2 separate regions of the Homo sapiens genome follow, and region 1 is linked to region 2. The links come from fine-mapping of genetic effects on gene expression. Tissue or cell type: monocytes. Region 2 holds a variant in brackets; the other region holds the start of a gene. All regions are shown on one strand. Distances are between the middles of the regions.

Region 1 (2,665 bases), 29 kb before region 2:
TGCACTCCAGCCTGGGCAAAAGAGCGAGACTCTGTCTCAAAAAAATAAATAAATAAATAAATAAATAGAGTAGGAAGGTCCTCTCCCCCATCATGCCCTACATCCTTAGCCCACTTTCCTTTTCTTCATAGCCAATGCTCATCACCCGTCGATTGTTTTCCCTTGGGAAGGAGATTTCAATATTGCCAGGTCCTTCCATTTACCAAAATATGTCTAAAGTGTAGATTTTTTTAAGATTGCAAAACCTGGCGATTCTTAAACACGAGCAATAAATTCATGTCTTGAAAAATCAGGGTGCTGGCCTCGTAAAACACATCAGGGGCTACCTGCTGAATGCCAGTGTCTGGCCTCTGCCTTAGCCCTCTCTTAGAACCACCCATCCATTTCACAGATGGGGAAACTGGGACCTGGGGAGGACCAAGGACTGTTTCCCCAAGTCGTCCGTGGCCCCCAAATCCACTAACCCACACCCTGGTCCCACAGGCCCCATCCTATCCTCTTCGTCCTAACAGCCCCCAGCCTCCCAGGGGCCCCGCATCTCCTTGTCCTACCACTCCAGGAGGGACCTCATCCTCGTCGAGGGGTATCACAAATTTCTTCCTTGCTGGCGGCCCTGAGGGCTGGGGCACCCCCTCTTTGTCCTTCCCAGGGTCCATCTGGAGCCTGAAAGGGAAGGTGCCAGGAGCGAGTGAGCCACTGGCGTCTACGTTCTCATCCCGCAGCAGGAACCCCCCACTCACAGCCGTCCCCCACAAAACTCCGAGAGCTCCATAGCGTCAGGTCCCCAACACCCAGCGCTAGAGGCTCTGTAACGCCACGCCCCTTTGACCTCCACCTTCGGCTCGCCCCGCCCCTTACAGGTCCACAAGTCCCATCGCTCCGCCCCTCGCCCCCACCGGATTCTATTGGCTCCGTCCCCACCATCCCCCGCCTTCCGTTCGTCCGGCCCCCGAGGCTAGCATCTGGACGCCCTCCCCACGCCTGGCCTTGTCCATCTCTCAGACTCGGCAATGATTGGCTTCCGCGGCGCCAATCTCCACCCGCAGTCTCCGCCTCCCGCACCTGTGGTCCGGGCCTCACGGTTTCAGCGCCGCGAGGCCTCACCTGCTGGTCTTGGAGCCTCAAGGGAAAGACTGCAGAGGGATCGAGGCGGCCCACTGCCAGCACGGCCAGCGTGGCCCAGGGCTCGCAGCACTTCCGGCCTCTCTGGCCCCGCTCCCCAGGAGAGTAGAGCATAGAGCAGGGCGATCTCTGTACAACTCTCTATGGTTCTGGAGGACCGCGGAGGTCGTGGGAGGAGAGAGATGTGGCCTGAGGATCTGGCTCCCAAACTGTTAAGTTTCAAAGCCCTTACTGAGCGCTTCTGTGTGCCCAGAATCCTGGCAGGGCTCAGTGGAGAACAGATCGCAGGAGATCCAACTTGGTCCCTCCTCTCAGTAAGGAGAGACTTAAGTTTGAATCCAACTCAGACATTGACTTGGCTTCAGTTTCCTCATTCATTCATTTATTCCACACCTATTCCCCCCACGCGCTTCCTCTCTTCCCGGTCCTGTGCGAGTCCGTGCTGGTGACACAGCAGTGACCAACGACAGCCCCGTGTTGTCCTCCCGGAGCTTACGGTTCAGTAAGGGACACAGACACGTTCCCAGTGCTGACCCAGAATGGGCAGGTCTGGGATGGGAGATCCCGGGAGAGCCGTGGGATGGGGGTCAGGGGGAGCGCCTGACTCAGCCCCGGAGTCCGGAAGGGCTTCCTGGAGGAAGGGACATCTGAGCAGGGGCCTGGCTGATGAGTTAGTATTAGTCACTTCCTGAAAGGATAGTATCACACTGTTCTAACTTGCAGCTCTCTGATTACTAAGGAAATGGAATGTTTTTTGTGAAAGTATTGGTCTTGTAAATTTTGTCTTCTGTGAATTGCTTGCTCATATTCCTTGTCCATTTTTAAAATGGGTTGTATGGCTTTTTTATTACTATTAATTTCTAGGGGTACTTTATGGATTCTGATTCTAATCCTTAGTTACCCATATTGCAAACATTTCCTCCTAGTTTCTACTTTGGGCTTTAACTTTAGTTATTTTTGGCACAGAAGTTATTTGTGTTTATGCGCAACTATTTATCAATCTGTTCCGTTCTGACTTTTGCTTTTGGTGTGTTAAGAGCCCTGCCATAACCCAGGGTCATAATGATAAATTCTTTTTTTTCTTTTTTTTTTTTTTTTCGAGACGGAGTTTCGCTCTTATTACCCAGGCTGGAGTGCAATGGCGCGATCTCAGTTCACTGCACCTCCCCCTCCCGGGTTCAAGCGATTCTCCTGCCTCCTTAGTAGCTGGGATTACAGGCATGTGCCACCATGCCCGGCTAATTTTTTTTTTTTTTTTTTTTTTTTGTATTTTTAGTAGAGACGGGGTTTCACCATGTTGGCCAGGCTGGTCTCAAACTCCTGACCTCAGCTGATCCTGAGGTCACTTTGTGACCTCCCAAAGTGCTGGGATTACAGTGCACGGCTATAATGATATATTCTATCATTTCTTTTATCTACGTAAAAGATAAAAGCCCCGTGTTGTCCTCCCAGAGCTTACAGTTCAGTGAGGGACACAGACACGGTCCCAAACAGTAATGACCTAGAATGAGCAGGTCATCTGGCTTTAATCTATGTAAGATTT
Region 2 (2,844 bases):
CTGGGAGGTTCTAACAACTCATCCCCAACACACACTCCCAACACCCCCCCATCCAGTAGCTTCATGTGACCAGGGCTGGGGCGAATCTCCGAGCAGAGAGAAGAAATTGAGTGTGTGACAGTGTGAATGGATGTGACTATAGGTGAGCAACAGTCGGTGACAATGTGCACATCTGGTATTTCCTGTGTGAGAGCAAAACTGCAGGACTCAGTGAGTGGTTTCTGTGGTTTGCACTTGTGTATCTGGGTGTATGGGAGTGTGTAGCCCTGCTGACTGTGTAGATATGAATGTGTGTGCAGTTGTGAGTCTTGCATGTGGTCATCTATGTGAAACAATGCCTGTATAAGTACCCATGGATGTGCACGGTTTTGCCTCTAGCCGTGCATTTCTGGTTCTGTGTGTGTGTGTTTCTGGTTTTTTCGTTTGTTTTTTAGAGATGGGGTCTGGCTGTGTTGCCCAGGCTAGTCTTAAACTCCTGGGCTCAAGCGATCCCCGCCGTCTCAGCCTCCCGACTAGTGGGGACTACAGGCAAGCGCCACTACACTCGGCTAATTTTCTGGTTTTTTTTGTAGAGACAGGATCTTGCTGTGTTGCTCAGGCTGGTCTCCAATTCCTGGCCCCAAGTGATCCTCCCACCTCGGCCTTCCACCACAGTGCTAGGATTATAGGCATGAGCCACCGTGCCTAGCCATGTGTGTTTCTGGATTTCTGTGTGTAACCATGCAGGTACCTGCGTTTGTGTACAGATTATTTTTCAGAGCTCCCTCCACAGCATTCATTGCAATGTCTAATTATATATTTGTTCCTTTGTTTACTGTCCATCTCCCCCACTGGACTGTGCACCCTGTGAGGGCAGGACCCAAGGCTGTTGTGGTCACTGCCAGGTCCCCAGCACCACCCTGCACAGAGAAGGTGCTCAGTAATTCCTTGTTGGGTAAATGAATCGATGACTCTTATGTCCATGTCGAGCACACACATCCATGTAACCCTGCAAGTGATTTTGTGGTACTGGGTCTTCTGTGTGTGTCTAGAAGCTGCGTGGGCCATAGCACAGGAGGGTCTCTGTAGCCATGTAGCTCTAATTTTTGGCACCCCCCACAGTGCAGGGCACATATCAGAGCCTCATGGCACATATCAGGGCCACGTGGAGTAGGAGGCCAGGTGCACTGGCTCACACCTGCAATCCCAGCATTTTGGGAGGCTAAGGCAGGAGGATCACTTGAGACCTGGAGTTCAAGACCAGCCTGGGCAACAAGGTGAGACCCTGTCTCTACACATAATACAAAAATTAGGCCAGGCGCAGTGGCTCATGCCTGTAATCCCAGCAATTTGGGAGGCCAAGGAGGGTGGATCACCTGAGGTCAGGAGTTCGAGACCAGCCTAGCCAACATGGTGAAACCCCATCTCTACTAAAAATAAAGAAAAAAAAGCCAGGCATGGTGG[T/C]GGGTGCCTGTAATCCCAGCCACTTGGAAGGCTGAAGCTAAAGAATTGCTTAAACCCGGGAGGTAGAGGTTGCAGTGATCCAAGATCACGTCATTGCACTCCAGCCTGGGCAACAAGAGTGAAACTCCGTCTCAAACAACAACAACAACAATAAAAACAAAACGAAAATTAGCCGGGCATGGTGGTGCACACCTGGAATCCCAGCTACTTGGCAGGCTGTGGTGGGAGGATCATCAGAGACCAGGAGATCAAGGCTGCAGTGAGCTGTGATTACACCACTGTACTCCAGCCTGTACAACAGAGTGAGACTTTGTCTCAAAAGAAAAACAAAAAACAAAAACAAAAATTTAAAAAACCCCTAAAAACTATGGATTTGAACTCTGTTGTCTTTTTTTTTTTTTTTTTTTTTGAGACAGAGTCTCACTCTGTCACCCAGGCTGGAGTGCAGACGTGTGATTCCGTCTCACTGCAACCTCTGCCTCCCGAATTCTCCTGCCTCAGCCTCCCAAGTAGCTGGGATTACAAGTGCCTGCACCACGCCCAGCTAATTTTTGTGTATTTTTAGCAGAGACGAGGTTTCACCATGTTGGCCAGGCTGATCTCAAACTCCTGACCTCAAGTGATCCACCTGCCTCAGCCTCTCAAAGTGCTGGGATTACAGGCGTGAGCCACCGCGTCCGGCCGAACTGTGTGGCCTTCCTCCTGCTAGCATTAGGACCTCTATGCACTCGGTTTCCTCATCTGTCAAATAGGGAGAATAATAGACCCAGTTTATGGGACTGTTGTGGGAGAGTAAATGAGTTCATATGGAAAGCATTTAGAAAATGCCTGGCAGAAAACAAACATTTACAAAATACCTGTTTTGATTGTTGTCAGTATTATTACTTCCTCTGTGTGTGTCCTTGGATGTGCGTGTGCGTGTCTAGAATCTGGGTTGCAGATGCAGGCTTTAGCTCTGTAGTCCTGTGTTACTGGGTACCCAAATGCCCTGAGTCTCACTTTCCTTCCTATACCATGGGCATGTTCCAGACCTTCTCCAGGGCCAGTTGGGACTCAATGAAGCTGCATCTGGAACACCCCAATGGCTACAAGGCCCAGCCGTGGTCTGGTTTCAGGAAAGGTAAATGAAGGGTGAAGTTGGGACGGGATGGAATTGAGGTTCAAATCACTCCATGGGACTGGGAAAGTGGGAAGTGAAAGAGGGATGAAAGAGCGCATTTGAAGCAGGCAGACTGAGGGTCAGACTCCAGAAAGGACTTCCTCCTAGGACTATTTTGGGGCTGGGAACTATAAGAAATGAACTGTTTTGCTGGGCCTGGTGGCCTACACCTGTAATCCCAGCACTTTGGGAGGCCGAGGCAGGCAGATCGCAAGGTCAAGAGATCAAGATCATCCTGGTCA

Evidence for each region. PIP is the estimated chance that this variant, and not a neighbour inherited with it, causes the effect. A credible set is the group of variants that fine-mapping cannot tell apart.
Region 1: it holds the start of ERCC1, and the variant in region 2 is the best candidate, but not a certain one, in a credible set for the expression of ERCC1 in monocytes (TOPMed, PIP 0.83).

What each region holds. Positions count from the first base shown.
Region 1 is chr19:45,422,719-45,425,383 of GRCh38, forward strand. ERCC1 (ERCC excision repair 1, endonuclease non-catalytic subunit) reads right to left here and starts at 1,199. Exons shown (of 10, transcript NM_001983.4): 1 at 1,063-1,199; 2 at 552-663. The coding sequence starts at 656. RefSeq lists enhancers at 1,185-1,274, 1,335-1,384, 1,633-1,927.
Region 2 is chr19:45,451,552-45,454,395 of GRCh38, forward strand. No RefSeq gene overlaps it. Among named protein-coding and RNA genes, the nearest start is that of FOSB, 15 kb to the right of the region's middle. The variant T/C (reference allele first, on the strand shown) is at 1,444.